Linked DNA regions of Homo sapiens. The protein of the gene in region 1 purifies or fractionates together with the protein of each later gene. This does not show direct contact. Each region holds a gene or a part of one and is shown in the gene's direction. Other genes may lie near its edges. The genes, in order: EVA1B, PTPRK, DDR1 and SLC25A51.

Region 1 (6,320 bases):
ATGGGGACAGCCACATTGGCCAAAGGTTTCAGGGACCTTCCCCAGGGCCTCCAGGAGCAGTGCTTCTCAAAACCCTCCAGGGCAAGGCTGCCGCTTCTCCCACCTGGCCTGGCTTGGCCACGGCAAGCCCCTGGAGAAGACAGCACTCTGGTTAATGTGCGTCCCTCTCTCTGAAGCAACCAGCAACCATCATCTCAACCCTCATCCTGCTCCACTAGGGCTGAGTCATACCTGACCCACTCCAAACACATATGTCACATACCAACCCAGACACAAACATACTTTTGCCTGCAGGCAGAGATACAGAGAGCTGCGTAGCACAGAGGTGCATGGAAACAGCTTGACAGAAACAGATCCAAAATTTTAGACTGCACATAGAGGAGCACACATGTGGACTCTCACAGACACAGGTCTGTGCCACATGAACTGAGGCACTGAGGCACACAACACACGTAGTCATACAAGCACACTGTAGCACACACCGATATTCCCGTGGATGGCAGGCATTAAACATGCTCATGCACTCCCAGCAATGCTGCACATAAATAAGCTACCTGTGCAAACAGTCACTGACATACACCCCTTGAAGAAACAGGAATACAACCCACAGAAACTCAATATTGCTGATGGTCTTCAAATCTCGGCCAAGGCAGTGGGCAAATTCTGGCCTCATCTTCACCTCTCAGCCCAATCACACATGGCTGATCACATCCCTGTTCTGGCCTGGTTCTCCTTGCTGACTTCACCTCCAGGAGACCCCTCAATGGGCTCGAGCTTCAGACCCTTCTCTCTCTGCCCCCTTACCCCAGATGTTCGGTCTCATCCACTTCTGGGGTGGTAAATCCATCTTATGTGGTAAGGACTCTCAAATATCATTTTCAGCCAGATTCCTGGGGGTTCTACTTGCATTGCCAACACCTGCACCTGGATATCTAATGGACATTTCAAGTCTAACCTATCTACAGTGAAACTGACTACCCCCAAACCTGCTTCCCCACATGGGCTTTCCTCAGGTGCCCCAGCCCAGTATGAAAGTGTTCTAAACTCCTCTCTCCCTCACATTCAAGTCCAGTGCAGGAACTCCCTTCAGAACACCACCTGAGTCTGAGCCCTCTCGCCTCTCCACCGGCCCCGCCCTCACTGGCTTGGACAGCTGCCAGCCTACTCACCACCCTCCCTGCTCCCCTTCTTGCCCACAGTGGCCCACCCTACACTGAGCCACCACAGGGATCTTTCCAAAATGTGTCACAGGGCCATGACACTCCCCTGCTCAACGCTCCAGGAGCTCCCCACCACACTTACATTAAAAACCAAGCTCCTGGCCGGGCACGGTGGCTCACACCTGTAATTCCAGCACTTTGGAGGCCAAGGTGGGCAGATCACCTGAGGTCAGAAGTTCGAGACCAGCCTGACCAACATGGAGAAACCCCATCTCTACTAAAAATACAAAATTAGCAGGGTGTGGTTGTGCATGCCTGTAATCCCAGCTACTCGGGAGGCTGAGGCAGGAGAATCACTCGAATCCGGGAGACAGAGGTTGCAGTGAGCAGAGATCGCGCCTTTGTACTCCAGCCTGGGCAACAAGAGTGAAACTCCGTCTCAAAAAAAAAAAAAAGAAAGAAAGAAAGAAAAAGCTCATCAACAAGGCCATCGAGTCCCTGCACGGGCAGCCCCTGCCACTCTCCCCTGCACCCACACACCATCTGCGTGGCTTTCTTCCCTTGGAGGGAGGTATCCCAAGCATGTTCTTACTCCTGCCCAGACACTCTCCCCAGATCCTGGCACAGCTGCCTCCTCCTTAGGATTCAGGTCTCACTGTGGATGTCCCTGTGAGAGCCACTCCCAGGTGTTGTCCATCGCATTACCCTATCCTGTCATGCCCCCCAGCACTTAGAAGCATCTGAGATTATCTTCTATTGTTTCTCCAATTTAGTGTCAGCTCCATGAGGGCAAGGATTTGTGTCTGTTCTGTTTATTGTTAAATCCCCATTAAAACTATTCCTCAGGGCTGGGCGCGGTGGCTCACGCCCGTAATCCCTGCACTTTGGGAGGTCAAGGCAGGTGGATCACGAGGTCAGCAGATCGAGACCATCCTGGCTAACATGGTGAAACCCGGTCTCTACTAAAAATACAAAAAATTAGCCAGGCGTGGTGGCAGGCGCCTGTAGTCCCAGCTACTTGGGAAGCTGAGGCAGGAGAATGGCATGAACCTGGGAGGCAGAGCTTGCAGTGAGCCGAGATCGCGCCACTGCACTCCAGCCTGGGTGACAGAGCGAGACTCCGTCTCAAAAACAAAAACAAACAACAAAAAAAAAACTGTCCCTCAGTATTCTCAGGGGATTGGCTCCATGACCTCCCTCCCATAGACACCAAAATCCAAGGATCCTCAAGTCCTTGATGTAAAATAAATTGGTTCAGTATTTGCATTTAACCTATACACATCCTCCTGTATACTTTAAATCATCTCTTGATTACTTATAATATCTAATATAATGTAACCGCTATGAAAATACACTATTGGCCGGCATGATGGCTCACACTTGTAATCCCAGCACTTTGGGAGGCTGAGGTGGGTGGATCACTTGAGCCCAGGAGTTCAAGACCAGCCTGGGCAACATGGCAAAACCCCATCTCTACAAAAATTAGCCAGGCATGGTGGTGCACGCCTGTGGTCCCTCCCAGCTACTTGGGAGAATGAGATGGGAGGCTCACTTGAGCCCAGGAGGTAAAGGTTGTGAATGAGCTGAGATAGCACCTCTGTACTCCAGCCTGGGTGACAGAGTGAGACCCTGTCTCAAAGAAAAAAAATTAAATATATCTATTGTTTAGGAAATAATGATAAGAAAAAAAGTCTGTACATGTTCAGCACAGATGCAATTTTGGTTTTGAATATTTTTGATGCAAAGTTGGTTAAACCCACAGATGCTGTGGACTAGACTAGGAAGTGCTAGGCATACACAGTATTTGTTGACTAGTGGCTGCACAGATTTATATACAGACATACCCGCCCCCACAACAATACTCAAATACATCACATTAATAGACAAATATACAGATGTGGGCAAAAATACCTGCCCGCACATTCACAGAACACACTAAACAGTCACAAAGACACCCAGGAGTCCCTTTTCCATCCCCATAGGAGTCAGTCCTAGTCCTCCCCCATCTAGATCTGCCCTCTACTTGAACCCAGTCTCGGGACTGGGGGAGTAGGGGTCTGCAGCCCGGACAGGGAGAGGGTCGCTGGCCCACAGGCCTCAGGCAGCGCCTTCAGCTATGTCTGCAATTTCCTCTCCCCCTTTCCTCCTCCTCTCTAAGGCTCCCGCCAAGGCGGCCTCCCCCTCATTCTAGCTCCAGCAAGGGAGGGGAGGTCCATGATGGGGGGGCCCCGTGGAGACAGGGCAGAAGGAAGCCCCCCGCCACACACACTGATCACACACCACATTGCATGCACAAGCCCAGGTGGGAAATGCGTGTGTGAGCACAGGCAGGTTTAGCCTTGGGGTGGGGGACGGGATGGGGTGGGATCTGCCACAAGCCGCCACAAGCTGCTTGGTGCACAAGAGCGCAGGAGCTCGCAGGCACAGAGGCCCCACGCTGGGGTCTGCGAGACTGCTGGCCGGGCCCTGGCTCAAAGCTGGAGTCCAACAATCATTAACCCTGCGTGACTAGACCAGAGCTCGGCCAGGGGACACATTCAAGCCTGGGCCCTGGAAGGAGGGGTGGACAGTCCCCTCCCTTCCAGTCCAGCATGGGTCTGGGGAAGAGAAGCAGCTTTGCCTGGAAGGGGCCTCCTAGGAGGGGGAGCGGTGGTTTCTAGCTCAGGCTTTAGGATCAGAGAGCAGCAGATTCAAATCCTGACGGTTTTGGTAAAGTCAATTCAATCTCTCCAAGACTCCGTTTATTTGATCTGCGAAGTGGGGATAATGGTATCACGTCGCAGGGTTGTCAGGCGGAGTAAGTGAAAGAACCTGTCCAAGGTTTAGCCCTTGGCCCGCACGCAGGCAGAGCTCCAGCCTCTCTGTTGTTGCTGTTAGTGGCCTGGGGGCGGGTCCCTGCCGCGGCCTCCCCGGCGGTTTCCTGTGGGGGACGGACGGCCCGCGGGCCGGGCTCTCCCTCCTCCCGGCTGCCCGCTCCTCTCCCCTTCCTCTCCCAGCCCTTTTCCTCCCCGCCTCCCCGCCCGCCCCGCCCCGCCCCGTCCCTCCTCTTTCCTCGGAGGAAACTTTCCGCCGGCTGGTCCCTCGGTCCGTGTCCCGCCCGTGCTGCCGCGGCCTGGGAGCCCAGCGGGGCCGGAGGGGCGGCGGGACCCGAGCGGGCGGGGGCGGCCGGACCCAGTGTATGCGGCCGCGGGACGCGCTGGGGCCGGGCAGCCGGGAAGCGGGGCGCTGACGGTGAGTGGGCCTGGCCCCGGGCCGGTGGGTCCCCGCGGGGCGGCCGGGCGAGGAGAGAGGCAGCTTCCCTTCCCGGAGCCCGCCTGGGGCGTGGAGGCTCAGCGTCCCTATCCTCCATCCCGCCCCGGGACGGCGGAACCGGGCCTCAGCTGGGGACCTCACCAGGGGGCGGGGCCTCCCGCGGTCCCCGGCGCTGCTCCCAGGACTGGAGGGGCGTCCGCGCCCGGGAGAGGGGTTCCCCCCGACAGGGCCCCGGGCCGCCACGAAGTTAGGGAAGCGCTCTCTCCAGGGTGGAACCTGGGCCCGCGGCTCCCGGGAGAGGAGCTGCCCGCGGAAGGGGTCGGGGTGGGCTCCAGGCTGGGAGAAGGATCTGACTTTGCTGACCTCGCAGGCTGGTAGGGGAGCTGCCCCCCAGAGCAGCATGGATGCCCCGCGAAGGGACATGGAGTTGCTCAGCAACAGCCTGGCTGCCTACGCGCACATCCGCGGTGAGGGCGGGCGCCGGAAGACTGGGGGCCTGAACCCTTCCCTGACCACCATCCCCTTCCCTCCCCAGCGCCTTGTCCGTCCCCTCCGCCCCGCTCCCCGCCCTCTTGCCCGCTGGCGGTTCCCTAATGCCCTTCGAGTAGGGGTTACAGGCCTCGCCCCCACACCTAGAACCTGGGGTCTTTCGGAAGTGGGACAACCCCCACCCGTCCGGGCCTCTCCGTGACCCCCGCCCTGTGCCCCGCAGCCAACCCCGAGAGCTTCGGCCTCTACTTCGTGCTGGGCGTCTGCTTCGGCCTGCTGCTCACCCTCTGCCTGCTCGTCATCAGCATCTCGTGGGCGCCCCGCCCGCGGCCCCGGGGCCCGGCTCAGCGCCGGGACCCCCGCAGCAGCACCCTGGAGCCCGAGGACGACGACGAGGACGAGGAGGACACGGTGACTCGGCTGGGCCCCGACGACACGCTGCCGGGCCCCGAGCTGTCCGCAGAGCCGGACGGGCCCCTCAACGTCAACGTCTTCACGTCGGCGGAGGAGCTGGAGCGGGCGCAGCGGCTGGAGGAGCGCGAACGGATCCTGCGGGAGATCTGGCGCACCGGGCAGCCGGACCTGCTGGGCACAGGCACGCTGGGGCCCAGCCCCACGGCCACGGGCACCCTGGGCCGCATGCACTATTACTGATGGGCCCCGGCTCCCGCTGCAAGGCGCTCGGGGTACCGGACCTGCACATGAGCTCAGAGCTACCCCACACCTTCGGACTGCCTCGGCCCCCACAGCTCCCAGGTGCTACTGGGCGTGGACCGCCACCCCCTGAGAGGCTCCCTTCCCCAGTCCTGCCAGAAGACCCCGGGGGCGGGGAGGGGGCAGCATGCAGGGTCCCCACTCCCTCTCTGGGGTCGATGAAGAGGTGAAGTGACCAAATGAAAGAAAGCTGCATTCTCAGTGACTCAGTCTCTCCCTCTGTTACTCCTGCCCCCAGCGACCCCCAGGCTCCTGCCACGCAGGGGCCCCAGGACTGAGGCCCAGCTTGACTCCCTTACCCTAGCTGCACCACCCCCACCCACCAACCCGACGATACAGCACACCTGCCCGCATTCACTTCACAGCCAGCAGAAAAGCAGAAGCCCACAGGCCTGCACCCAGCCTCACACACAGAGCAAGCGCGCGCGCATTCCTTATTCAAAACGCATTCCTTACCGGCAAACGCCTGGACACACGTCGCCCTGTCCCCACAGTGCCCTGGGTTCATACACTGCAATGACACACACACCAGGCCTCAGGACCCTGACCTCGAGGCTAAGGTGCTGCTAGCCCCGGTGTAAGCATGCGTGCTTGGGCTGGACGGTGGACTTCACGTCTGCGCCGAGGTGCGTTCAAGCGAGAGGGCAGGAGTCCCTCTGAGCGGACAGGGAGGCCAGCTGGGAGGGGTCCGAGCTGGCGAGAAGG
Region 2 (7,030 bases), on another chromosome or scaffold:
TAGATAAAGTAAAACAGCAATAAAATAAAAGTTGGCTGTAAGTAGTCTATAAAACAGGAACTTAAGAAATACATACATTCATCCTAATGCGTGTAGTGTTATCCACAATTTAAAGTATAGAAACTCTGCCTTTTAATGGCAACATCTGTGTTTTTTGTTTTTATCACTTTTGCAAATCCCATATTGTATAGAATGCTAGGTTGAAATAGACATTTCTTGCCAATCTAGAAAATTCCCAATAGAATTCCAGCTTTAAAACTAAATTTCAGACATACAGAGTTACTAAATGGCCTAAATTGCAAGGATTTGTGCTGCAAAACAGCTATTTAAAAATTTTTTTTAAAGAATTCACATTAGAGGACCTTGAAAACTGCATCAGTGAGATTCAGCAAATATATGCCAAAAAACACGAGCATTATATCCAGACTTTCTTCTGATTAGAAACTTCTCTTAAAACAAGCATTTAGAGATACTAAAAGCAAATTACATGGCCTCATTTTGAGGTGTGACCAGAAAAATAAGTACTGAATCTGAAAAGCGTTTCCTAAATGATGCTGCACACCATTCTCATACGCTCTTCCCTCCAAGCTACATAATAGGTTGTACCTAAGCATTTTTTGCTTTCTGAAAATCCAACCTATTCAGGATTTAAATAACCATGTATAAAAGAGGGGAAAAAAAGCAGAGAATGAAGTAAAGGTAAAACGTCCCATAGGATCAGATACTATGTACCCTGAAAACAAAAAAAACTTCCTTTCAATCCTCCTCATGAAATCTGATGTACTCTTAAATTACATTCCTGTCTCCAACTCTGGGAACAGTGATTGAGAAGATGGTAGGGGACAAAGATAAATAGAGATAGCCACAATATCTTTTGCTTAAATTTCTAAAAGAACAGTGAGTTTAAGAGAAGTGACCAAATCTGAATAACAAGGAAATAATGTTACTAGCCTATCTAAGCACTTAGAAAATGAGATAAATAGGTTTTCAACTTAAGAATTTCTTGATTTATCAGAGAGGTTTACTTTCTTATGAATTGCTTGCTTCAGAAATGCTCCAAGATTCTCAGATACTCTCTTGAAACAGAAGTGTCATTTTCCACCTACACTGAAGCATCTCTGGACTACAAAGTGAATTCCCCACTCCCCGCAAAAAATCCTTATTTTGTTTTCCCCATTGACTTCTATATATAAAATTGGAGAAACATTCCCCAGCTGCAAAATAATCACAGTATATTACAATTAAAGGACACAAAATATGGTGAGATAGAGGAATACATTTTAGTGTTCTGTACCACTGTAGGATGAGTCTGGTAAATGATAATGTTTAGTTTGAGAGAGCTAGAAGGAAGATACTGAATGTTCACAACATAAATGATACATGTTTGAGAGGACGCATATGCCAATCACCCTTTTCTGATCACTCTACATTATGTGTATTAAAATATCACTATGTACCCAAGAATATATACATTATTATTTGCCAATTAAAGACTAAAATATAATTTTTTAAAAGTATTTTTAAAAATTAACTTTAGAATTAAATACAGTAAGATAGCGGCTAGCCTTTTGATTTGCTGGGAATCATATTCTACACCTAATAATTCATTTTCATTTCTCTTCAGATCATGATTCAAATAGTCTTTACACTGTTACTCTCCTCCCCTTTGATAACCGTCATTCTCTTGCCCACCCCCACCATTTGCATTTCCTGTGAAGCGTGGCTCCTCAGATTTCCCGTTTAAAGTTTTGGGAATTAATTTTCTTTTGCCTTGGTATTTACAAGAGGTGAAGACAGTGAGTGAGCCAACATTCTCACATTGTTGCCAGAGGACACACAACTAGATGAATCTAAAAATATTCAATCTTGAGTTAAATTTTGAAGCGTGAATCTGCCACTTGATCAATTCTATGAACTTGAAATTATGTGTATTAAATTTACATAAAATGAAAATTGTGAGAGAGGTGTGGAACTTAAACAGTGTTATTTTCAATTTGAAAATAATTTAGAACTCTTGTTCCAATCTTTAGTTTATACCAAAGCAGATACTCTGCATGAAGCTATTTGTACATTAATAAGCTTTTACACAGCAGGGACAAGTGCTGTGCCTTGCAGTTTGTTAAATCAATTTGATTCTACCTATCTGACAGTGGAAAAAGTCCTTATTTAAGGTTATGAAGACTAACATGCTTCTTACAATTCATTAAATTTAATTGTTTTTCAGTGCTGGTGCTGGACGAACTGGCTGCTACATTGTGATTGACATCATGCTAGACATGGCTGAAAGAGAGGGTGTTGTTGATATTTACAATTGTGTCAAAGCCTTAAGATCTCGGCGTATTAATATGGTCCAGACAGAGGTATGTAGATTTACCTGTAGTGGACTTTTTTTTATTTTTTATTTTTTTTGCAAACAAAGAGTAGATGTCTCTCATATATACTCTACTCAACCGAAAGAGATGTTTTTCATGTGTAATCAATATTAGCTGAGTCATATAGAAAAATATTGGTGTTTTAATTCATATTTCCATATAGAGAAAATTTTCTGTATTTCCTAACTTTGATGACAGAAAAGTGATACTAAAACTAGTACAAAATTTTCTTTTTCATTCTTTTGGTAGGAACAGTACATTTTTATTCATGATGCCATTTTAGAAGCCTGCTTATGTGGAGAAACTGCCATACCTGTCTGTGAATTTAAAGCTGCATATTTTGATATGATTAGAATAGACTCCCAGACTAACTCTTCACATCTCAAGGATGAATTTCAGGTATTAACTATTTCTAAAACCTCTTTTGTGACTTACTACAATTTGTTCTGGGCGCTAGGAATCCTTTCAAGGAAGGTCTTTCAAGTCAAATTTATAACCTTTGATCCTGTTTTAAATACAATACGTATCTCTTTCATTATACATATTATATAGTCACTTTTCTATTGATGAATTTATATCTACTATATCCAAAATGACAAATAAGTTCAGACTTAGGGAAGAGCAAAGGGGAAAGGTATCATAAAAGTCAAAAATTAGGCCAGGCGCAGTGGCTCATGCCTGCAATCCCAGCACTTTGGGAGGCCGAGGCGGGTGGATCACGAGGTCAGGAGATCGAGACCATCCTGGCTAACACGGTGAAACCCCGTCTCTACTAAAAAGACAAAAAAAATTAGCCAGGCATGGTGGCGGGTGCCTGTAGTCCCAGCTACTCGGGAGGCTGAGGCAGGAGAATGGCGTGAACCTGGCAGGCGGAGCTTGCAGTGAGCCGAGATTGCACCACTGCACTCCAGCATGGGCAACAGAGCGAGACTCCGTCTCAGAAAAAAAAAAGAAATAATAACAAGTCAAAATGAGTGGTGATTTGTGTGTATTTAGTGTGTATTTATAGCCTTTTTTTCATGCAGTCATACAGATTTTGACCTGGGTCACTCACAATGTGATGAGATCAAGCACATTAATTATAACTGAGTCTGGGTTCAGTGGCAGCTCACACCTATAATCCTAGCACTTTGGGATGCCAAGGCAGGCAGATCTTGAGGTCAGCAGTTCAAGACCAGCCTGGCCAACATGGCAAAACCTCATCTCTACAAAAAATATAAAAAATAGCCGGGTGTGGTGGTGCATGCCTGTAGTCCCAGCTACTCAGGAGGTTGAGATGGGAGGATTGCTTGACCCTGGAAGTTTGCTTAACCCTGGAAGGCTGTGGTGAGCCAAGATATTGCCACTGCACTCCAACCTGGGCAACAGAGTAAGACCCTGTCTCAAAAATAATAATAGTAATAATAATAATAAATGAAGTTTGTAGTACATGTTATTTCAAAATAGCCCTAAATGTTTTCACTGCCCTTAAAACACCCCTGAAGGTGGGTGAAAATAAAATCAAGGGCAGAGACCAAATTCTTTGATTGTTGATCCAGTGCTCTTTCCAACATGCCATAGCTTATCTTCAAATATGGCAAGCCCAGATGTTACTACAAATGATACCGTTTCCCAGTGTGATGAAGGGTCATTATCATAATGGACTGCCCGATTGCATTTTCTTTGGTTAAGGCAATGCATTTTGCAGGTAGCAGTGTTGTTTAGCGTACCTTTTCCTTTTAAGAAGAGGAGCCCTGAACAATGTGTGTCTTGTTTCTTTGTCACTTCTCAGGCTTCATTAGCTTTAACTACAAGGTCTATCAGCCTGTCATAGTAGCAAATGCCATTGCCTCGCACAAATCCTTCACTTTCTACTTGGCCTTCTAAATTCCTGATGGATCTGTGTTATACTGTTAAATGGGTCACACTGTCTTTTAACCTGGGTTCTCTTTTCTTTTTAGACTCTGAATTCAGTCACCCCTCGACTACAAGCTGAAGACTGCAGTATAGCGTGCCTGCCAAGGAACCATGACAAGAACCGTTTCATGGACATGCTGCCACCTGACAGATGTCTGCCTTTTTTAATTACAATTGATGGGGAGAGCAGTAACTACATCAATGCTGCTCTTATGGACGTAAGAGACTGCCCTCTTTGTTAGTGTAGAGTGTTGTGGAAAGCTACATAATGCAACTGAACACTGGCTAGTTTTCTTTTCGAGGAAATTAAAATAACCTAAAAAGGAAAAGTGGAAACTTTTATTGAAACACATTTTTTTGGAAAATGATTTTAGGTTTTCCCTATAGAGATTCTTAAGAACTGTCATTTTTATAGCTTTATTGTAGATTTGGAGCTTGATTGTCAATTATTATATTCATGTAGTAAATATTGCAAGTTATAAATTTCATCTTAATTATTTTCAGAAAAGAAAATCATGCCTTATCTATTTTGAATATAATTAGAAATGAATTTTTTAAATCACAGAATGCCAAATCCTACAAAAATCATGTTAATTTGGGAAATTTTTATTTCTGACATTTAATGTTTCAATAATTTACAATTAATTTGTTGGCCATTAATCAATAAGGACTATTATAAGTAACTAGAGAGGGGATGGATGGTATTATGTTAACACATCCATCATAATGAAAGAACAATCTTGCCCCATTCTAAAATCTTAAATTGCAGGGTGTTATATAGCCCATAGACAGAACAATATGGAAAGAAAGTTTTCTGTTTTAGTTTTTGGTTTTTTTTTTTTTAGACAGAGTCTCACTCTGTCGCCCAGGCTGGAGTGCAGTGGCATGATCTCAGCTCACTGCAACCTCCGCCTCCCAGGTTCAAGCAATTCTCCTGCCTCAGACTCTTGAGTAACTTGGAATACAGGAGCGTGCTCTACCACACCCCGCTTATTTTGTTTGTTTGTTGTTGTTTTTGTTTTTGAGACAGAGTTTCGCTCTTGTTGCCCAGGCTGGAGTGCAATGGCACAATCTCGGCTCACTGCAACCTCTGCTTCCCAGGTTCAAGCGATTCTCCTGCCTTTGCCTCCCAAGTAGCTGGGACTACAGGCATGCACCACCATGCACGGCTAATTTTTTGTATTTAGTAGAGATGGGGTTTCACCATGTTGGTCAGATTGGTATTGAACTCCTGACCTCAGGTGATCCACCTGCCTCGGCCCCCCAAAGTACTGGGATTACAGGCGTAAGCCACCGTGCCGGGCCTTTTTTGTATTTTTAGTAGAGATGAGATTTCACCACATTGGCCAGGCTGGTCTCAAACTCCTGACCTCATGATCCGCCCACCTTGGCCTCCCAAGGAAAGAAAGTTTTAAATTATGACTTTGGCCACTTTACTTTGATTATGTTGGAAAGAAGCAAGAAAGCTATCATGGTTTATAATCTTTTTAAACAGTTTACTGCCTTCATTTCTAGCTTTTGCCCTTTCTCCTATGAAACCATATCAAGGAGAAATTAGAAGCCACGGTTCATTTCTTTCTGACTATAACAGGCTTTCTAAGTTATTGTTCCTGTTAAGCCCACATTCTGTTTCTACGAGTAGTCTTCACCAGTTACTTTACTCTTTTTGGTGCTGCAAAGCGGAATAGTCTAAAGGCAGGCTCTCGTCCTTGCTGTGGTCACTCTTGCCTGTGAAAAGCTCTCATCCTTGCTGTGATCGGAGTCTTGCCTGGCCATTAATCACATCCACTGAAATCACATTAAATCCTAATTATACCTTTTCTTTTTATATTAGGTGTCTGGAAAGGCAAATATACTAAATAGAGAGATGGCATACAATACTTTTTCATTTCTGCATCTAAATATGGAATAAAAAAAGGATGTGTGAACAAGAAAAGGAGAAAATAATAATATTTAGAAAAGCATTGATGCCTTTGAATTTTTTGCCATTGGCATCTTTGTCAAATTTTTCTCAATGTCCAGATTGTCTCCTTTTCTTTTCTTTTTTCTTTTTCTTTTTGAGACAAGCTCTCACTCTGTAGCACAGGCTGGAGTGTCGTGCATGATCACAGATGACTGCAGCCTCAATCTCCTGGGCTCAAGTGGTCCTCCCACCTCAGCCTACCAAGTAGCTAGAACTAAGGTGTATGCCATCATGCCCAGCTAATTTTTTTTTTATTATTTTTTGTAAAGATGGGGTCTTGCTTTCTTGTCCAAGCTTGTCTTTTTTTCTGTATGAAAGTTGAAGCTTGTAATCCACCTGCTCTTACTGTCTGCTTAATCCCCTGTGATTCAAAAAAAAGACATTTCATAGTTAAAGCTGTTCTGGGGATTTAGTAGTGCAAATGAACCGTTGGAGAAGTAAAGCTGGTTTGATTTACAAGAACAGGGTTTATTGTTCACTTCTTTCTCCCTACCCTTTATCCCCATCATTAGTACCCTTTTGCCAGGTCTATGAGGGATTAGGAGCTAGGGCCAAGAATTCTGTAATTTCAAAGCCTTACATATGTTCCTGCATTTAGAGGGAAAAAGAATAGGAAGTCTTCAGTCTTCTCCTCTCTTATCAGCTCCTCCTCATGCATATCCCCTCCCCTGTGGCTCAAAAAATGAGTAGATAGCCGTCAGTCTGCTTTGACTTACCTTTGCATGGAGCAGACATTTGATTGGAAGAAGAGCTTCCTTTCTTCTAACTTTTCTCATTGTATTAGTTCATTCTCACACTG
Region 3 (6,168 bases), on another chromosome or scaffold:
GTGTTGGAAGAGGAGCTGACGGTTCACCTCTCTGTCCCTGGGGACACTATCCTCATCAACAACCGCCCAGGTCCTAGAGAGCCACCCCCGTACCAGGAGCCCCGGCCTCGTGGGAATCCGCCCCACTCCGCTCCCTGTGTCCCCAATGGCTCTGGTAAGACCTGCCTTGTTCCAGTCGCACCTCTGTCCTCTCTGCTGTTTTCTTATTGTATCCCTTTCCCATTCTCTTTTTTTCCTGTCTTCCCCAGTTTCCACTTGTTTTCTTCTTTCTGTGCCCCTGGTTACTGTCTATATCACTCTTTGTCCCTACCATGTAGTCTCTCTCAAGAGTTCCCCATGTATTACCCATAGTCCCCCGTGGTGCTATCTTGTCTGTGTCCCACAGACATCTCTCTATCTTTGTTGTACCCTCTCATTGTGTCTCCCTGGCCCCTTTGCTTTGTATTAGACTCACCATGTTTGTTCCTTCATCTATCCTCCATCACCCATCCTTCCATCCATAGTCATACATCCTTGCATCCATCCATCAATCTTCCATCATCTGTCTTTCTATCTATATTCATAAATCTATTCATCCATCCATCCACCCACCCATATCCATCATCCATCTATCCATCTATATTCACACATCCATCTTTCCATCTGTTATCCATCCATCCAACAAAACATCTGTTTACCATCCATCCATCTATTCATACGTCCCATCTGTCCATGCATTCATTATCCAGCCAGCCGTCCGTCACTCTGCAGATCCTTGTTTTATCCTGTCTGTCTCTTAATGCAATCATCCCATCAGCCCTGGTCTTGCCCTATTCAAGGTCTCCCTGTCTGTCTAGCCTTGAGTCTCATCCCTTCCCCGTGTTTCCCCTCCTCCTTCTCCCGACAGCGTTGCTGCTCTCCAATCCAGCCTACCGCCTCCTTCTGGCCACTTACGCCCGTCCCCCTCGAGGCCCGGGCCCCCCCACACCCGCCTGGGCCAAACCCACCAACACCCAGGGTAAGCCCCTCTGCCCCTGGGCTCCGCCAGGCTCCCCATACCTCTACTGGGGCAGGGAAAAGCCCTCACACCTTGCACTTCCTCCTCTCCCCACTGTGGCCTATTCTGCTCTCCTGAGCTCCCAAGGAGGAAGCTCTTGTGCCCTTAGCTCATCTCTGCTGCTGCTTGCTCTTTTTTAAGGTCCCCCCCTTGAGCTGAGGAGTAGAAAGCTTACTGGTCCCCAGCTCTTCTCCCTCCTCCTCTTCCACGCCATCTCTTCAGCTCTCCAGAGCTAGACAGGAGGTTGCTGTGGTGGCCCCAGACTATAGTAACTCCTCCTTTATTCTCCACTCTCTCTAGAGCTGCGAGGAGGAGGGCTCTCACCCCGGGCGCTTGCCCTTTCCCTCACATGTGTCCTCTCTCTGCAGTCCCAGAGGTGAAGGCTCATGCCCCAACCCTTTCCATCTGCCCCTCTTCTCCTCAGTGTTGCCTTCTCATTGTGGCCCCTTCCCCAGGGCTAAGAGGGGACAGCTCTGCTTCCTCTCCTGTCTGTAGACAACTTGTGTTGGGGCTGTGAGCAGCTGTTACCCTCCCTCCTCTCTGTGTGCCTCTGTCTCTGCTTGTTGTTGAGCTTGGTGTGTTGGGTTGAAAGGGTTGGGAGGGCTTGGCCCCAGGGGGAGCCAGGCTGAAAGCCACGGGAGAGCAGCTAAGTGAAGGGGAGGGAGCTGTGGTGAACGGGACAAGGGTTTGGAAGGTGGAGGGTGCCTGGATGCTGGGACCATCCTGAGGCGGGAGAATTCCTGGGGAGGAATTCTTCTTCCAGCCAAGATTTATCTCACAGTCTCTTGAGAGACCCTAGGGAGGCCCTAAAAGAGTAAGACTTTATGACAGTTTTGCTCAACCATATTCATTGCCTTGAAAAGCTCTGGAATAGCTAACTCTCGTCCCATGCCAGTGTCTTCCTGGTTTGAGGTTGGCGCATGGAATACTGGGAAGATACAGCATAGACCCAGTCTCTCACTCAACCGGGAGACACAGGGCCCTCCGGGAGGCTGAGGTGTGGGGAACTATAGCTCTTGGGCTGTTCCTGATGCCTCGTCCTGTCTTCTTTCCCCTCACCCCTGCAGCCTACAGTGGGGACTATATGGAGCCTGAGAAGCCAGGCGCCCCGCTTCTGCCCCCACCTCCCCAGAACAGCGTCCCCCATTATGCCGAGGCTGACATTGTTACCCTGCAGGGCGTCACCGGGGGCAACACCTATGCTGTGCCTGCACTGCCCCCAGGGGCAGTCGGGGATGGGCCCCCCAGAGTGGATTTCCCTCGATCTCGACTCCGCTTCAAGGAGAAGCTTGGCGAGGGCCAGTTTGGGGAGGTAAGGAGGGTGCCTACCCAGTGTCTGGCCCTATTGTGTGCTCTGATGCCATGCCTGCGCATCCCCCTAGCCAGGAACCTTAGTCATTTGTAACCGTGTTAATCCGTTTGACCCTGTGACCGCCTAGCAAACGAACTTCTTTCTCCAGGTGCACCTGTGTGAGGTCGACAGCCCTCAAGATCTGGTTAGTCTTGATTTCCCCCTTAATGTGCGTAAGGGACACCCTTTGCTGGTAGCTGTCAAGATCTTACGGCCAGATGCCACCAAGAATGCCAGGTGAGGACCAGGGATGGCATCTGGAAGAAGGGAGGGGAGGCCGTGAAGAGTGGGGAGCCATCTAGAGAGAACAATGGCAGAGCCCAACAGAGGGGTGGCATCTCTGGGAGGGGATTTACATGTACGCTGGGGGTGGGGACGCCTGGTCTGCCTGAGGTGGGGCAGGGGGGTGGGGGCGCGGGGGAAGGTGCAGGCCGCCCACTCGGCATTCCTCTTCAGCTTCTCCTTGTTCTCCAGGAATGATTTCCTGAAAGAGGTGAAGATCATGTCGAGGCTCAAGGACCCAAACATCATTCGGCTGCTGGGCGTGTGTGTGCAGGACGACCCCCTCTGCATGATTACTGACTACATGGAGAACGGCGACCTCAACCAGTTCCTCAGTGCCCACCAGCTGGAGGACAAGGCAGCCGAGGGGGCCCCTGGGGACGGGCAGGCTGCGCAGGGGCCCACCATCAGGTACCTGCTTACCCAGGCTGGGCCTTGCTCAGAATTCCCCCAGGGGATCTCCTCCTCTCCCCTCGCTTCAGCCTGGAGGAAAAGAGGGGAGCGTGGGGGTGGGAAGGGAGAGAGGTTCCAGGAGGGCCTGGGATAAGGAATGTGTGACAAGTTAACCCAGGAACATGGACAGAAAGGCTGGAGGTGACTATGCAAGAGTGGTGAAGGGACTTGGGCCCTGCCATGACGTCCCTTCTGCTTTCTCTCACCCTCACTCCCCTCTGAGTCCAGATTGGGGAGCACAATAAAAGAAGAGCCCCCTAGTGTTGGCCAGGCCTGGGAGATTGAGAGGGAAGTGACCCTTGGCCTCACGTGGGCATTCCACCTCCACATGGGGAGCCAGAGTGACCGGGCCCGGGGAGTGGGCTCTCTCTCCTCTCCTGGATGGGAATCTGCGAAGCTGCCCCCAGTGACCTTCTGTCGGTTCCCTTCTCAGCTACCCAATGCTGCTGCATGTGGCAGCCCAGATCGCCTCCGGCATGCGCTATCTGGCCACACTCAACTTTGTACATCGGGACCTGGCCACGCGGAACTGCCTAGTTGGGGAAAATTTCACCATCAAAATCGCAGACTTTGGCATGAGCCGGAACCTCTATGCTGGGGACTATTACCGTGTGCAGGGCCGGGCAGTGCTGCCCATCCGCTGGATGGCCTGGGAGTGCATCCTCATGGTGAGCAGCCCGAGGACAGCCAGGTTGGAGCAGGGCAGGTGGGAGAACACTGGCCGCCACTCACAGCCCTGGTCTCCATCAGTCACACACTTTCTCTGGGTTGCATTTTACAGAATCTCATCTATAATATGAGGTTCTCCTAGCCCAAGGGACTGGGGAAAGCAGGAGCTGCAGTGTGATGGGCAAGAATCCAGGAGCCAAGAGTGGGTACTGGGGATGGAGACAGGGTGGCAGAGAGCTCAAGAGATGAGGTTGGGCGAGGAAGCTGGAGATAGAAGGGGTTGGGTAGGGAGACCGAAGGTCAGGACCAGAAAGTGGGGGTGGATGGAGAGGAAGGAGGAGCAGAAGGAAGAGGTGGGCCAGGGCCCTGGAGAGAGGACCAGAGCATGGAGAGGAAAGGCAGAGCCCAAGGGAGAGGAGTTGGAAAAGGTGGCCAGCGGAGGAGAGTGGAGAGCCTGGCGTCAGGAGGGATCAGGCCTGAGTGGAGCCCAGAGTGGATCTGGGGCTTCCAATAGGAAGGGAGGAGGGTCTACGTTGCCTGATGTCCCTGTCTGTTTTTGCTGCCTTCTCTGCATCCCAGGGGAAGTTCACGACTGCGAGTGACGTGTGGGCCTTTGGTGTGACCCTGTGGGAGGTGCTGATGCTCTGTAGGGCCCAGCCCTTTGGGCAGCTCACCGACGAGCAGGTCATCGAGAACGCGGGGGAGTTCTTCCGGGACCAGGGCCGGCAGGTCAGAGTGGAGGAGAGGGAAGATGGGTCCGAGGCGGGGGACAGAAGGGGCAGAGTTGTCATCTTGGAGACTAAAGAATATTTGTTCCCTGACTCTCATCCACACTGCCACAATGCAGGTGTACCTGTCCCGGCCGCCTGCCTGCCCGCAGGGCCTATATGAGCTGATGCTTCGGTGCTGGAGCCGGGAGTCTGAGCAGCGACCACCCTTTTCCCAGCTGCATCGGTTCCTGGCAGAGGATGCACTCAACACGGTGTGAATCACACATCCAGCTGCCCCTCCCTCAGGGAGCGATCCAGGGGAAGCCAGTGACACTAAAACAAGAGGACACAATGGCACCTCTGCCCTTCCCCTCCCGACAGCCCATCACCTCTAATAGAGGCAGTGAGACTGCAGGTGGGCTGGGCCCACCCAGGGAGCTGATGCCCCTTCTCCCCTTCCTGGACACACTCTCATGTCCCCTTCCTGTTCTTCCTTCCTAGAAGCCCCTGTCGCCCACCCAGCTGGTCCTGTGGATGGGATCCTCTCCACCCTCCTCTAGCCATCCCTTGGGGAAGGGTGGGGAGAAATATAGGATAGACACTGGACATGGCCCATTGGAGCACCTGGGCCCCACTGGACAACACTGATTCCTGGAGAGGTGGCTGCGCCCCCAGCTTCTCTCTCCCTGTCACACACTGGACCCCACTGGCTGAGAATCTGGGGGTGAGGAGGACAAGAAGGAGAGGAAAATGTTTCCTTGTGCCTGCTCCTGTACTTGTCCTCAGCTTGGGCTTCTTCCTCCTCCATCACCTGAAACACTGGACCTGGGGGTAGCCCCGCCCCAGCCCTCAGTCACCCCCACTTCCCACTTGCAGTCTTGTAGCTAGAACTTCTCTAAGCCTATACGTTTCTGTGGAGTAAATATTGGGATTGGGGGGAAAGAGGGAGCAACGGCCCATAGCCTTGGGGTTGGACATCTCTAGTGTAGCTGCCACATTGATTTTTCTATAATCACTTGGGGTTTGTACATTTTTGGGGGGAGAGACACAGATTTTTACACTAATATATGGACCTAGCTTGAGGCAATTTTAATCCCCTGCACTAGGCAGGTAATAATAAAGGTTGAGTTTTCCACAACTGTGTGAGTGGGTTCCTTGGGAATTTGGTAACTCTGCCTCCTGCACCTCCCTCTGAACCCACTTCCCAACCCACTTCCCATCTTCCTTTTTTCCTGCCTCCTCATTCCATTTCCCATCACCTGTTTTGCCCAGCATTGTGTTCTGTTTCTGGATAATCCAGGCCTTTGCCTGTGGGACCTCAGGAGATGCATGAATGTCTGAGTGCATGAACCTTCTCAACTCAGAGGGGTGCTCTGGTGGAGGCCTGGAAGGAATGCAGTCAGGCCAGGGGTGCTGAACCTTTTTTGTGCCATAAACGCCTTTGGCAGTCTGTAGAGGTCTACTGAGTCCTCCTCAGAATTAGGTTTTAAAACCTATAAAATGGACCAGGCATAGTGGCTCACCCCTGTAATCCCAGCACTTTGGGAGGCTGAGGTGGGTAGATCACTTGAGGCCAGGAGTTCGAGACCAACCTGGCCAACATAGCAAAACCCCATCTCTACTAAAGATACAAAAATTAGCAGGGTGTGGTGGCATGCGCCTGTAAT
Region 4 (7,030 bases), on another chromosome or scaffold:
GTCCCCTTTGGGAGGCCAAGGCTGGCAGATGATGTGAGCCCAAGGAGTTTGAGACCAGCCTGGGCAACGTAGAGAAACCCTGTCTCTACAAAACATACAAAAATTAGCTGGGCTTGGTGGTGCGGGCCTGTGGTCCCAGGTACTCAGATGGCTGAGGTGGAAGGATTGCTTGAGCCCAGGAGGTCAAGGCTGCAGTAAGTGCAGTGAACTGCGAGGTAGCCACTGCATTCAGCCCAGGTGACAGAGCAAAACTCTGTCTCAAAAAAACAAAACAAAACTGAGAAATAGTAAGATTGGTAATTCACAAGCTGCTGCTTTGCTAGGAGTGGTAAGGTTATAAATTAGATAAACTGATAACCCTGCTCAAGAAAAAAGGGAACATAAGTACACAGGTTAGAAGTAATTTTTTAAAACAGCAAGTGTTGGATGGGTGCAGTGGCTTGTAAATCCCAGCACTTTGGGAGGCCAAGGCAGGAGTTCAAGACCAGCCTGGGCAACATAGCAAGGCCCCCTCTCTGCTAAAAAAATGTTTTTTAAAAGTTAGCCAAGCATGGTGGCATGCGCCTGTGGTCCTAGCTACTCAGGAGACTGAGGCCCCAGGGGTCCAGGCTGCAGTGAGCCATGATCGTACCACCGTACTCCAGTCTGGGTGACAGAACAAGACCCTGTCATTTTTTTTTTTTTTTCTGGATAGAGTCTTGCTGTGTCGCCCAGGCTGGAGTGCAGTGCTGTGATCTTGGTTTACTGCAACCTCTGCCTCCCGGGTTCAAGCAATTCTCCTGCCTCAGCCTCCCAGGTAGCTGGGACTACAGGTGCGTGCCACGATGCCTGGCTAAATTTTGGATTTTTCGTAGAGATGGGGTTTCACCGTGTTAGCCAGGATGGTCTCGATTTCCTGACCTCATTCATGATTCGCCTGCCTTGGCCTCCCAAAGTGATGGGATTACAGGCGTGAGCCACCACACCTGGCCAAGATCCTGTCTTTAAAAATAAAAATAGGCTGGGAGCAGTGGCTCATGCCTGTCATCCCAACACTTTGGGAGGCCAGGGTGGGAGGAACACTTGAGCCCAGGAGTTTGAGACCACCGTTGACAACATAGTGAGACCCTGTCTCTACAAAAAAAAAAAAAAAAAAAAAAAAAAAAAAGGCTATATAAATTAAACCAGAATTTTTTTTTTTTTAAGGAAATCCAGTTATCAAAATTGACTCAAGAAGAGAGAACCTAACAGAACAATAACAATGGAAGAAATTGGGAACATTATCACAAAGCTATCATCCTGCCAAACTCCAGGCTCAGATGTCACAGGTGAATGCAATTAAACTTCAAGGAACACATCATTTTGATAAGATTTAAATTGTTCTACAGTATGATGGGGGTGGGGGGGCGGGGAATCACATATTCTTTTTACAAAGCCAGTGGAACATTGACACTGGCACTTGATGTGAAGATAGTATTAAAACTGAAAACTTATCTGAGTGCCAAGGCTTATGCCCATAATCCCAACACTTTGGGAGGCTGAGGCAGGAGGATTGCTTGAGCCAAGGAGCTTCAGACCAGCCTGGGCAACACAGAGTGACCCTGTCTCTACAAAAAAGTGAAAAATTAGCCAGGCATGGTGGCGCACGTGTGTGGTCCCAGCTGGGAGAATTGCTTAAGTCTAGGAGCTTGAGGCTGCAGTGAGCCATGATTGTACCACTGCACTCCAGCCTGGGTGACAGAGTGAGACCCTGTCTTGTAAAAGAAGAAAAAAAAAATGACAACATGATCTGTTATGAACAGTAATATGAAATTTTAAAATATTAGTAAATGGAAGTTAGCAGTATGATGAAAGAATATTTCACCACGGCCAAGTAGCATTTATCCACATATTGCAAGAGTGAGTAATCACCAAGAAATATGCTAACATAATACACCAAATGAATAAGTCAGAAAAGATAGAAAAGAATAATAAAATAGCTTGCCCTTGTTGAGTTCCTACTGTACACTAGACTGCTGTCCTGGGCACTTTACATGTTGTTAGCTCAGTTAATTGAGCTAGTCTATGAGGTAGTTAATAGCCACGTTTTATAAAGAGAATAAGCTATAGAGTGACTTGTCAAAGGTCACACAGTACATGTGTGGTGGAGCTAGGATTTAAGTAGGTAATTAGTAGGTTCCAGAGGCTGTACTCTTAAATATTACACTGGCTGTCTCCAGTGTTTGTATGATCATCTCAGGAGCTTTCTAAAAGCATTTGACCAAAGTTTAAGATAGACTCTTGAGTTATTGGCGGTGGGAAGGTGTGGAGGTGATTGAACTTCAGTACAACAATAATAAATGTATATTTCCTTCCCATGTTTGAAAATTCTCTCAGTTTGACTTATCAGTTGACTAGAAAAATGAAATTCATTTTTATTTTATTTATTTATTTATTTTTGAGACAGAGTCTTGCTGTGTCGCCCAGGCTGCAGTGCAGTGGTACAATCTTGGCTCACTGCAACCTTGCCTCCTGGGTTCCGGCAATTCTCCTGCCTCAGCCTCCCAAGTAGCTGAGATGACAGGTGCATGCCACCATGCCCGGCTAATTTTTTTTTTTTTTGAGATGGAGTTTCACTCTTGTTGCCCAGGCTGGAGTGCAATGGCATAATCTCAACTCACTGCAACCTCCGCCTCCGAGGTTCAAGCAATTCTCCTGCCTCAGCCTCCCGAATAGCTAGGATTACAGGCATGCGCCACCACGCCTGGCTAATTTTGTATTTTTAGTAGAGACAGGATTTCTCCATGTTGGTCAGGCTGGTCTTGAACTCCTGACCTCAGGTGATCCACCCGTCTCAGCCTCCCAAAGTGCTGGGATTACAGGCGTGAGCCACCGCACCCGGCCACCCCCGGCTAATTTTTGTATTTTTAGTACAGATAGGGTTTTGCCATGTTGGCCAGGTTGGTCTTGAACTTCTGACCTCAAGTGATCTGCCTGCTTCGGCCTCCCAGAGTGCTGGGATTACAGGTGTAAACTACTGCTCCTGGCCTGGAATCCATTTTTAATGGGAAGCACAATTTCATAGTTAATAGTTGGGGGCAGGAGCTTAAGTTATAATTGCAGCTCCACTAATTCTTAGAATGAATATAGATTGAAGTCTTGGGGTTTTTGGCATGATTTGTGAGATGAAATTATGTGATAGCAGAAGGAAGGCCTCCTGCACTTCATGTTTACAGTAGAGTCCTACAGATGGGCAGGGGTAGATGATAAATAGGGAGGAGGGATACTTGAGTGGAATAAATCATATATGACTCAGCTGATCAGTGAACGTTTCTGTGTCTTGATGATTTGTTTCCCTGTGTAAACTTGAAAACTGCTAGGACCTGGATTATGAACACTCAGATGACAAGAACTTCCTGTTTAAAACCGAAAGCCAACTTAATGATAATCCCTAGGAGAGTTCCCACAGGTGTCAAGAAAAATATAAGAACTATAATTATATATATATGTAATTATATATAGGGATTATAATTATAATTTATTATAATCCTTTATTATAATTTAATTTTGTTCAGGAAGTATTTATCAGTTCAATAAGAAGAAAGAATTACACATATTATAAAAGAGAAGGCAAAATTTTTTGCAAGTGATCTTTTACATGGTGGAAACTAAAACGTTCACCAAAAAACTGAGACATAGTAAGAATTCAGTAAGTTAGCTGGTTCTAACCTTAATACCCAAGAATTGTTAGTTGTTTTCTTATGCAAACGAAAACTAGTTAGAAAACTGATGGAAGTAAATAGCCTATGAATAATAATAATCAGGCAGGGCAAAGTGGCTCATGTCTGTAATCTCAGCACTTTGGGAGGCTGAGGCAGGAGGATCACTTGAGCCCAGAAGTTGAAGACCAGGCTGGGCAACATAGTGAAACCCCATCTCAAAAAGAAAAAAAATTTAAAAATTTAAAATATAATAGTAACCAAAAAGGTGAAATACATAGATGTAAGAAATAATATCTATGTGAAGAAAATTTTAATGCTTTAAGGTTTGCAAAAAGTTATAAGTAAATAGGAAGATACCAAGTTCTTGTAAAGTTAAGATTCAATTTTGAAAAGATGATCAGTATTTAAAATTAAGATAGACTTGTCATGTCCTGTCTGTCATTCCCTCTGGACAGCTAGTTAATGACCTCCTGCTGTACGGGGCCTTGATACCTTCTATGATTGCACTTATCTCCCTATAGTCTAATTAATTTGCACGTCTTATCTCCCCTGACATAGGTACCGGACATACATATGCTCTTTAATTTTCACTCTTTCCATCTAAATACCACTAAAAATTCAAAGTTAATACCGTTCTGAACCTTAAATATTTATTTATTGAGACAGAGCTTCGCACTTGTCACCCAGGCTGGAGTGCAGTGGTGCAATCTCGGCTCACTGCAACCTCCGCCTCCTGGGTTCAAGTGATTCTCCTGCCTCAGCCTTCAGAGTAGGTGGGACAACAGGTGCACACCACCACGCCTGGCTAATTTTTGTATTTTTAGTGGAGATGGAGTTTCGCCATGTTGGCCAGACTGGTCTCGAACTCCTGACTTCAAGTGATCCACCCACCTCGGCCTCCCAAAATACTGGGACTACCGGCGTGAGCCACTGTGCCCGGCCACCCAGCCTATTTTAAATATATATGCCTCATTCTGTGGATACATCTTCCACCATAAAACACCAACAGGATTTTGGGGAAGAGTACACCGAAGTTTACCTGAGAAAAGTGAGAGGGCTAGAAAAACTGTAATAATTATCTTTGGAGGGGGAAGCCCTACTAGATGATGAACTATATTTTGATGCTGCAATAGGTTAAAACAGGTTAGTACTAGAGAAGAAATACCAGGCTCTTTGTGGAAAAGAATGGAGTGCAGAAATAAACGCAAACGCCCGTGGGTATTTAGATTATGCTGCAACTGATGGAAACAAAGTTCAGTCATCAGTGATGTTGGCAGTCTGTTATCTTTGCCTCACTTCTTAAACTGATATTCCAGAGATATTACAGTATACGTGATAATTCACCATAAAAATTATGGAAGGGCCTGTAATCCGAGCACTTTGGGAAGCCGAGGCAGGCAGGTCACTTGAGGCCAGGAGTTTGAGACCAGCCTGGCCAATGTGGCAAAACCTTGTCTTTACTAAAAATATAAAAATTAGCAGGGCATGGCAGCACACACCTATCATCCCAGCTACTTGGGAGGCTGAGGCAGGAGAATCACTTGAACCAGGAAGGCAGAGGTTGCAGTGAGCCGAGATCATGCCTCTGCGCTCTATCCTAGATGATAGAGTGAGACTCTCTCAAAAAAAAAAAAAAAGTTGTGGAAGGAAGCCTGGATTACTTGTTAATAATTTTGGAGTAATGAAGACCTTAGGAGAACATGAAATCTAGAAGTTGAGATATATTTAATATTCAAATTAAGAACTTCAGTGTATAAAAATGATATAGACATGGAAAAATTATTTGCCACAATTTGACTAAAATAGATTCATTTGCTTCATATCTAAAAGATACTTTACAAATCAGTAAGACAACCAAAGTGCCAGCAGAAAAATGGGCAACATATATGAAAATGTATAGTAAAGAAGTGGTCAATAGAAATGAAAGATGGGGAATCATATTCAAAAATTTTAAATGGCAGGCAAGGTGGCTCACTCCTTACAATCCCAGCACTTTGGGAAGCTGAGGCATTAGGATCGCTTGAGGCTAGGGGTTGGAGACCAGCCTGGCTAACATAACAAGACCCCTTCTCTACAAAAAAAAAAAAAAAGCCGAATGTGGTGGTGGATACCTGTAGTTCCAGCTACTCAGGAGGCTGAGGCAGGAGGGTCATTTGAACCTAGGAGTTCGAGGTTACAGTAAACCATGACTGTGCCACTGCATCGTAGCCTGGGCAACAGAATGAGACCTTGTCTCAAAAAAAAAAAAGTTTTTAATGGCAAAACAATTCACATGGTATAAGTACAAGGTTGCCCATTGCTGCATTGTTTAAAGGCGAAATAGAAAAAAACAATACCCAAAGGAATAGTTCTACTATAAGGACACATGCACAGCCATGTTCACTGCAGCACTATTCACAGTAGCAAAGACATGGAATCAACCTAAATGCCCATCAGTAGTACACGGGATAAAGAAGACGTGGTACACATACACCATGGAATACTATGCAGGCATAAAAAGAGCAAGATTGTGCCCTTTGCTGGAACATGGATGGAGCTGGAAGCCATTATTCTTAGCATACTAACTCAGGAACAGAAAACCAAATACCACATGTTCTCACTTACAAGTGGAAGCTAAATGATGTGAACTCATGGACACATAGAGAGGAACAACACACACTGGGGCCCATAGGAGGGTGGAGGGTGGGAGGAGGGAGAGGATCAGGAAAGATAACTAATGGGTACTAGGCTTAATACCTGGGTGGCGAAATAATCTGTACAACAAACCCCATGGCACAAGTTTACATAACAAACCTGCACACGTACCTCAGAACTTAAAATTTTTTGTAAAAGGCCAGGCCAGTGGCTCATACCTGTAATCCCTGCACTTTGGGAGGCCAAGGCGGACAGATCACTTGAGCCCAGGAGTTCAAGACCAGCCTGGCCAACAAGTTGATAACCCATCTCTACAAAAATAGAAAAATTAGCCAGGCATGGTGGCGGGCACCTGTAATCCCAGCTACTCGGGAGGCTGAGGCAGGAGAATCAGTTGAACCCAGGAGGTGGAGGTTGCAGTGAGCCGAGATCGCACCACTGCATTCCAGCCTGGGCAACAAAGCAAGACTCTGCCTCAAAAAAAAAAAAAAAGTTAAAAAAAAAGGTGAGTGGGGGCAGGTTTAATTAGACCTTTCCTCTAGACACTCTCTGGAAGGTCTTGGAATTAAAAATGTATATCTTTTGTATACCCACTCACACACTTGGCAAGCTGAATTGTCCACAGAGTTTTCCAAACCTTAATAATACAAAACCATAAAAAAAAACAGCAACCATAAATAGGAGGTAGAATAAATTGTATACAGTGCAGTCATTTC

The links.
Region 2: the proteins of EVA1B (region 1) and PTPRK purify together in Homo sapiens (co-immunoprecipitation; 2 studies listed by BioGRID and IntAct, with this or other methods). This does not show direct contact.
Region 3: the proteins of EVA1B (region 1) and DDR1 purify together in Homo sapiens (co-immunoprecipitation; 2 studies listed by BioGRID and IntAct, with this or other methods). This does not show direct contact.
Region 4: the proteins of EVA1B (region 1) and SLC25A51 purify together in Homo sapiens (co-immunoprecipitation; 2 studies listed by BioGRID and IntAct, with this or other methods). This does not show direct contact.

What each region holds. Positions count from the first base shown.
Region 1 is NC_000001.11:36,321,530-36,327,849, reverse strand, and holds EVA1B (protein eva-1 homolog B), read left to right. Parts: upstream 1-4,204; 5' UTR 4,205-4,391; exon of another isoform or gene 4,392-4,782; 5' UTR 4,783-4,812; coding exon 4,813-4,879; exon of another isoform or gene 4,880-5,124; coding exon 5,125-5,555; 3' UTR 5,556-5,820; downstream 5,821-6,320. Other genes in the region: SH3D21 (SH3 domain-containing protein 21), read right to left, coding at 1-130, 6,072-6,126.
Region 2 is NC_000006.12:127,978,572-127,985,601, reverse strand, and holds part of PTPRK (receptor-type tyrosine-protein phosphatase kappa isoform b precursor), read left to right. Parts: intron 1-2,224; coding exon 2,225-2,360; intron 2,361-2,621; coding exon 2,622-2,771; intron 2,772-4,312; coding exon 4,313-4,486; intron 4,487-7,030. UniProt on the Homo sapiens protein: Regulation of processes involving cell contact and adhesion such as growth control, tumor invasion, and metastasis. Negative regulator of EGFR signaling pathway. Forms complexes with beta-catenin and gamma-catenin/plakoglobin.
Region 3 is NC_000006.12:30,894,518-30,900,685, forward strand, and holds the end of DDR1 (epithelial discoidin domain-containing receptor 1 isoform 2 precursor), read left to right. Parts: coding exon 1-154; intron 155-886; coding exon 887-997; intron 998-2,103; coding exon 2,104-2,348; intron 2,349-2,496; coding exon 2,497-2,624; intron 2,625-2,843; coding exon of another isoform or gene 2,844-2,861; coding exon 2,862-3,080; intron 3,081-3,555; coding exon 3,556-3,790; intron 3,791-4,370; coding exon 4,371-4,520; intron 4,521-4,638; coding exon 4,639-4,779; 3' UTR 4,780-5,639; downstream 5,640-6,168. UniProt on the Homo sapiens protein: Tyrosine kinase that functions as a cell surface receptor for fibrillar collagen and regulates cell attachment to the extracellular matrix, remodeling of the extracellular matrix, cell migration, differentiation, survival and cell proliferation.
Region 4 is NC_000009.12:37,894,106-37,901,135, reverse strand, and holds part of SLC25A51 (mitochondrial nicotinamide adenine dinucleotide transporter SLC25A51), read left to right. Parts: intron 1-1,185; 5' UTR 1,186-1,307; intron 1,308-7,030. UniProt on the Homo sapiens protein: Mitochondrial membrane carrier protein that mediates the import of NAD(+) into mitochondria. Mitochondrial NAD(+) is required for glycolysis and mitochondrial respiration.